Linked DNA regions of Homo sapiens. The protein of the gene in region 1 purifies or fractionates together with the protein of each later gene. This does not show direct contact. Each region holds a gene or a part of one and is shown on either strand. Other genes may lie near its edges. The genes, in order: SPDEF and MECOM.

Evidence for each region.
Region 2: the proteins of SPDEF (region 1) and MECOM purify together in Homo sapiens (affinity purification with mass spectrometry; 3 studies listed by BioGRID and IntAct, with this or other methods). This does not show direct contact.

Annotation. Positions count from the first base shown.
Region 1 is NC_000006.12:34,546,330-34,549,829, forward strand, and holds part of SPDEF (SAM pointed domain-containing Ets transcription factor), read right to left. Parts: intron 1-3,500. UniProt on the Homo sapiens protein: May function as an androgen-independent transactivator of the prostate-specific antigen (PSA) promoter. Binds to 5'-GGAT-3' DNA sequences. May play a role in the regulation of the prostate gland and/or prostate cancer development.
Region 2 is NC_000003.12:169,082,878-169,087,003, reverse strand, and holds the end of MECOM (histone-lysine N-methyltransferase MECOM), read left to right. Parts: intron 1-1,960; coding exon 1,961-2,095; 3' UTR 2,096-3,497; downstream 3,498-4,126.

The DNA.
Region 1 (3,500 bases):
ATCCTCTCTAACAGTGACATTTATGGTGCCCTACTGGGACAGCAGGAGGGGAAGGGGGCTCCCTGATCCATCTCCAGTTACCCTGTGAGACTGACCCGCGCAGCCTCCGTATGCAGCTGGCATTTGCTTCTGCAGGTGGGACAAGGGAAAGAACCCAGTCTGGAAGACACCTCCACTTCGGTAGGGCCACAGCTAGCCCATTCAATTTCACACAACTCAGAAAATGACATCCCTTCCCCCTGGATAGCATAGCTTGACGAATGGAGCCTAGGTAGAATTTCAGCTTCCTCTGCCCACCCTCCTTGTGCAGTGCCCAACCTTCCCAGTGTTACATGGCAGCCCTGCAGCTTCCTGTGGTGGAGAAAATGCCAGCAGGAGGGAAGGGTGTTCCCTTTGATTTCAACTCTCCCATTCAAGGGCTCCTTTAAGTGACAAGGAAGGAAAGGTCAGGGTGGGGTGGGGTGGGCAGAGACCAAGGCGGGGCTGGGGATGTGGGGGACAGAGGGCAGACCTGGAATCATTTCAAGTCCTTCTGTGCAAACACTCGTGTGTGCTGTGGGCCCACATTATTTACTCAGGCAGTGCCAACAGCTCGCTCTGCCCCTGGGCCCCACCCTGCCTGGTGCCCATGCCCTACCCGCTAGGTGGCTCCACCCCTGGGGACCCCCCCCCGCAGCCCCCCACCCCTCCTTCATCACCCCCTGCCTGCCTCCTGCCCCGTCCACATCCCCAGAGCCCCCATGCCTGCCACGTTAGGACAGTCTCTGCCAACACCCTGGGCGCCATGCCAGGGAGACAGAAGCTTTTCCAAGAAGCAGAACTCGCTTCCCTTGTGGCCCTCCTGTTTGCTTGGCCTCAGCCACAGGTAGGACAGGAGGCAGCTGCTGTGTTTCAGGCATGGTTGTGTGGGGTCGGTGGGGATGAATGGGCAGGGCAGGTGGCAGCTTTTGCCAGGAAGGCATATAATGACACATCCTTGACACATTTGCTGAGTGCATGTGAAGCCCTCACATCCATCCCCTTGCCAGGAGAAAGGCAGCACAGGCCTTACTCTCTCTTTTTTTGAGATAAGGTCTCGCTCTGTCGAGTGCAGGGGCATGATCATGGCTCACTGCAGCCTCGACCTCCTGGGCTCAAGTGATCCTCCTGTTTCAACCTCCCAAGTAGCTGGGACTACAGGTGTGTGCCATCATGCCTGGCTAATTTTTAAAATCTGTTGTAGAGACATGGTCTCACTATGTTGCCCAGGCTGGTCTCGAACTCCTGGGCTCAAGTGATCCCCCTGCTTCAGCCTCCCAAACTGCTGGGATTATAGGCACAAGCTACCTCATCTGGCCCAGGTCTTATTCTCATCCCTACTTTGCTAATGGGGAAGTCAAGGTGCAGAGAGGTAAATCCCCAAATCCAGGTCTTTTGACTCCTGGCTCGGGCTCCTTCACCCTCTATACCCCACATTCCAGCTTGACCTTGCCCTATACCTAAATGCCAAGGAATCTACTCCCCACCAAGCCTCGGTCCTAGCTCCAACACTTCCCTGATGAAAAATAAGTTAATGGTTAACTGTGTGGTTGGAGGAAAGGTTCGACTCTCTGCAGATCAGGGGTGGTGGGGAATGCTCCGTCCCCAAGGCAGCCCAGGCCTAGAGTAGGGGGGCTTGGCTTACTGGTCAGGCAGCCAGGGCTGGTGTGCCCAACCTGCAACTAGGCGTCTCAAGGTTCTGGGCTGGCCTCAGGAGGGAAGAAGAGAGAACGGCACTGTGAGCCCCTGGCAGTGAGCACCAGTGCCACGCCCAGGCTTTCACCCACATCACCCGCTTTCCTACCCACAGCCAGGGTGACGTGGACTCCAGAGCCCTGCTTTATAGATGCGGACAGTGAGGCTCAGGGAGGCTGTGCAGCTTGTCCAGGGTTCTTCCTGGCCAGGTGTGGGTTCTGCTCACTGGACCACATTCTCTCTGAGGTGCATGCTCTGGCCAGTCCCATCTTCCTAGGGGATCTGCCCACCTCCTGACTGGGCTCCTTGATGCTCTAAAGTCTGTCCCCACCTCTTGGCTCTTCATTCCACCCCACTGTTCATATCCCTGCAGCACCCTTTCATCAGACACCCCTGTGCTCAAGAATCTCCCATGGCTCCCCATTGCCCCATCCCAGTGGCTGGTGCCTACCTCTGAGTCTACCTCCTACCTGGCCCAGATAATCAGAGCTGGAAGGGGCCATATATTATGTGATTGTTTCATAGAATGGGAACAATGAAGCCCAGAGTGGGGAAGGGATTCATGTGCTTATTAGCAGCAGGGTCCGGACCAGAACCAGGGATTGACATAGTGACCACAAATCCAAGCTCTAATGAGAATGGCATTTCATACCTGCCCCTGTGCTGTGGGCACAACATGGCTATTTTCTAAGATGCCCTTTCCTTCTCATCACAATTCATCCCAAAGCCCTCCTGCCCCAGCGAGCCCTCCCTAATAGCTCCCTCCTGCGACTTCCTAGGCTCGCCTCATCTGTGCCATGCAATTCAGCCCAGGATTAAATCCATCAGTGATGGTCCACCCATGGGGACACATGTGCACTGGAAAAGCTCAGGCTCAAAGAGTGGCAGGGAGGTGCCCACAGTCACACAGCACAGCCAGGGCCAGACCAGAGGCCTCCTGACACTCAGGCCACTGCTCCGTAGGCCAAGGGTCCTGGGACGTGCCAGGTGTCTGCCATGTCCAGGGTCCTCAGATGGCAGGACCCAGCGTTCCTGCAGCCTTGGCCTGCCAGTCCCACGGGCTGCCGTCTCCTGAGCGATGCCTCCAGCTCCCAAACCTCGAGTTGATCTCTTCTGGATTAAGCCACATGTCTGGATTAAGGCTCAGCGTGTCCTGGCTCCCTCCTGCTCCAGAGGCCCCAGATCCCACTCCAGACAAAGAAAGTTTGGTAACAGCTGGTGGAGGCCAAGGCCCAGAGACAGGAGCAGAATGGTGGGGTGGCGGCCAGGGGGATTAGCCACCTTGGGCCCCTTCTCTCAGCGCCTTCCATTCCCCCAGGAAGGAAGATTAAGGAAAGTGAGCAGAGGGACCCAAAAGGAGAGATTTAGTGCAGCTTTTCCTGCCACTACCCTGCCTACTCTCACCCCTCGGGGCTAGAAATGTGCCCCTTGAACCCTTTGCCTCCCAGGTTTTCACTCCCACACCCCAACTGGCATCAGCAAAAGATGCCCTCCCTGACAGCTCCCGAACCACAGTTTCCGGGAATGGAGTCACCTGGGAGGCGTTTGCTAAGGACCCAGGTCGCTGTGCGGGTTGGAGCCTGTCTTCCATATCCTGCTTGGTCCCGGCTCTCAGGCCCTACCTCCTGGGGAGATGGTGGTGTGGGGTAAATGTATCCTCACCCCTACCTCAATCCTGAGACCCAATGCCAGCCCGCCCAGAGCCCAAGACCCCAGCTTTAGTCCCCATTGAGAAGAGCACTGAGGGAGTGACAGAGATGGCCACTCTGGCCCTGCTGCTCAGCCCC
Region 2 (4,126 bases), on another chromosome or scaffold:
TTCACTTTATTTCATAATATCATTCATTCGTTCATTTATTAACTACCAGCTATATGCTGGGCACTGATCCTTATATATGAAAATGTTTATTTCCTTTGATTACCAAAAGGCAGATATGCTGTTTTGCCATTTTCTAGAATCTAAAGGCTCAGATGCTTTAGTCAAAGCATTCATATATTTATTCTGTAATTTTTATAGTCTGTAATTTTTATAGTGATTGAATTGAAAATAGTTGACCAGTACAATAGTAGCTGCATTTTGCATGTGCTCTCCCTCAAGAAACTCTATCCGGTAAAAATTAATTTCATGGTAATAGGTACTATTTATGTATTACCTCAGTCAGGCACACTGAGCTAAACACTTTATGTAAGTTAGTGCATGTGATTCCTCCACAACTCTTGGAGGCCAATACTGTTATTACTATCATCTGTTTTATAGGAGGAAAGTAAAGCTTAAAAGGTTAAGCAACTTGCTCAAGATCACACAGCTAGGTGAGTAGAGGCAGGTTTAAAGGCAGGATTAAAATTTAAATTCCAAAATTTTCTTTGTACTCCTTTTTATCTTCCCAAATATCAGAATTTGTTTTAACTCTTTCAGAGTACTCTTTATCTTGTTCTCTAAAAGTAGGTACATAATCAGAATAGATAATTTAGGTTGAATGCTCACTTAACCCATACTTTAAACTCTGCCAAAGATAAGTACTCTATATTATTTATTCTTAATTTCTTAGGATCTATCACAGAGCCTGGCATAGAGTAGATGCTTAAGAAATATTTGTTAAATGGATCATGAGATATTGTAGAAGTCCAAAAGGCAAATTGCATACATAAAAGTCAAATGTGTACATTTAGAGCGATGACCCAGCAAATCAAAAATCAGCCTACAAGGGTAAATTTTCTAACTAAATGCAATGATTACGGAAGAAACCACAGACTGGCCACATGTCTCAGCATGACTCCCAGAGATGAAATTCTGCCTAACAACAGAGGCATTTTGTCTTTGTTTACAGACAGTGGAATGTCTTTGGCAGGACTTTAATGATTCCACTTCAGCAGCATTTTGACAAGCAAGTTTAGCAATGGATGAGACCAACAATAGCAAATCAACAGTGAAAAGTTCACTTACAAGTCAAGACCAAACATTTCATTTGAATATTTTGCTTGGCAGTAAATAGGGGACTCTCTGAACAGTTATTTAAAATTTGACATGATAATAGGGAAGAAAGAGTACTTCCTCACAGAGCACCTCCATGCACCTTCTGCTCAGCAGACACTGGAAAACAAGTTGATTAGAACACTGTTGGGTCTTGTGTTTGGTTTTATTTTTTTGGTAGAGCTGATTTGATCCACCTCAACTTATGGGTGCCAGGACTGAGTATGTCAAGCATGGAGGGAAATTGGAGAAAAGACAATGGATTAAAAGTTGGGCAGAAATACATTTTAGTTATGCTTCTCCCACTATCTATCTAATTGAGTGACTTTGGGCAAGTCACTCAAGCACCTTCAGTGCTTTCGGTTATAAAGTGTAGGAGTCAGGCTGTATCCTCTACTAGGCCACAGCTCTGTCAAGGTAGGTCTATATCTTATTAATATTTGAGGTTTCAGTCATAAGCACACAATAATATTTTTGGTGAATTGAACATATGTAGTGGATGGATGACTGTATTTATAGTTGAACAGGAGACTGACTCATTTTTCTCAATGGAAGCACTATTTGCATTTTAGGTAGGATAGTTCTTTTTGGTTCTGTAGCGTGTGTCACTTTTGGGGCCCCTAGGCACTAAAGGCCAGCAGTAATCCCATGTGGTTTCTACAAAAAATATGCCTTCTTTGCCAAACACACCCATGAAGGATGCCCCTACTCAGGGTCCCATCCCTTTCCATTTACCAACAATATTCTTTGAACTAAAAGTGATGTTTTTCAAATGCCATTTACTGAGTCTCTCTCCTTTTTACCCCAGGCATATGCTATGATGCTGTCACTGTCTGACAAGGAGTCCCTCCATTCTACATCCCACAGTTCTTCCAACGTGTGGCACAGTATGGCCAGGGCTGCGGCGGAATCCAGTGCTATCCAGTCCATAAGCCACGTATGACGTTATCAAGGTTGACCAGAGTGGGACCAAGTCCAACAGTAGCATGGCTCTTTCATATAGGACTATTTACAAGACTGCTGAGCAGAATGCCTTATAAACCTGCAGGGTCACTCATCTAAAGTCTAGTGACCTTAAACTGAATGATTTAAAAAAGAAAAGAAAGAAAAAAGAAACTATTTATTCTCGATATTTTGTTTTGCACAGCAAAGGCAGCTGCTGACTTCTGGAAGATCAATCAATGCGACTTAAAGTGATTCAGTGAAAACAAAAAACTTGGTGGGCTGAAGGCATCTTCCAGTTTACCCCACCTTAGGGTATGGGTGGGTGAGAAGGGCAGTTGAGATGGCAGCATTGATATGAATGAACACTCCATAGAAACTGAATTCTCTTTTGTACAAGATCACCTGACATGATTGGGAACAGTTGCTTTTAATTACAGATTTAATTTTTTTCTTCGTTAAAGTTTTATGTAATTTAACCCTTTGAAGACAGAAGTAGTTGGATGAAATGCACAGTCAATTATTATAGAAACTGATAACAGGGAGTACTTGTTCCCCCTTTTGCCTTCTTAAGTACATTGTTTAAAACTAGGGAAAAAGGGTATGTGTATATTGTAAACTATGGATGTTAACACTCAAAGAGGTTAAGTCAGTGAAGTAACCTATTCATCACCAGTACCGCTGTACCACTAATAAATTGTTTGCCAAATCCTTGTAATAACATCTTAATTTTAGACAATCATGTCACTGTTTTTAATGTTTATTTTTTTGTGTGTGTTGCGTGTATCATGTATTTATTTGTTGGCAAACTATTGTTTGTTGATTAAAATAGCACTGTTCCAGTCAGCCACTACTTTATGACGTCTGAGGCACACCCCTTTCCGAATTTCAAGGACCAAGGTGACCCGACCTGTGTATGAGAGTGCCAAATGGTGTTTGGCTTTTCTTAACATTCCTTTTTGTTTGTTTGTTTTGTTTTCCTTCTTAATGAACTAAATACGAATAGATGCAACTTAGTTTTTGTAATACTGAAATCGATTCAATTGTATAAACGATTATAATTTCTTTCATGGAAGCATGATTCTTCTGATTAAAAACTGTACTCCATATTTTATGCTGGTTGTCTGCAAGCTTGTGCGATGTTATGTTCATGTTAATCCTATTTGTAAAATGAAGTGTTCCCAACCTTATGTTAAAAGAGAGAAGTAAATAACAGACTGTATTCAGTTATTTTGCCCTTTATTGAGGAACCAGATTTGTTTTCTTTTTGTTTGTAATCTCATTTTGAAATAATCAGCAAGTTGAGGTACTTTCTTCAAATGCTTTGTACAATATAAACTGTTATGCCTTTCAGTGCATTACTATGGGAGGAGCAACTAAAAAATAAAGACTTACAAAAAGGAGTATTTTTCCCCACTGTGTGGTATTTTTCCTTCATGCAATTTTACTTTCCCTTTGGGATCCAATGATTTAAAGATATGATGCTGAGATCTTGATGCCCTACAGATATGTGGAATGTAGAGTATGTTTGTTTTGTTTTGAGATAGCATAAATGATAGTTCTTGGGCAACAATGAGTCTCGCTTATTGTTCTGTACTTTCCCCATGTGGTGCAGTCAGGGCTCAAGTGCACCACAACCCAGTCCTGGTATCACTTCACGTTCACAGCATCCACTTAAATTAGGACAAAGAGCGACTTACAGGTTTTCTACGGATTGTATGCCAAAAGGAACTCAGTTTCTTATTTTTGTTTTTCATTATACGAGTAGTGTTAACTGATTCACAAAGGGGGGAAACCTTTGACTTTTCTATGCTCCTTTTAATTTTTTGTCCACATGCAAAATATCCTTTTTTCATTGTTATAACTGCGTGTAAACAAGATTTATTTTTTCTTTCTTTGCTTGTGTCAAAAGAAAAAAAAATTACACTGCATAGTGCTACAAATTCTTCAAAATAATAATGTAGCAGTTTCCCAATATTCCATCATTTGATCTACTATAATTTCCTCCACCACTTTAATTTTGTTGAAGATT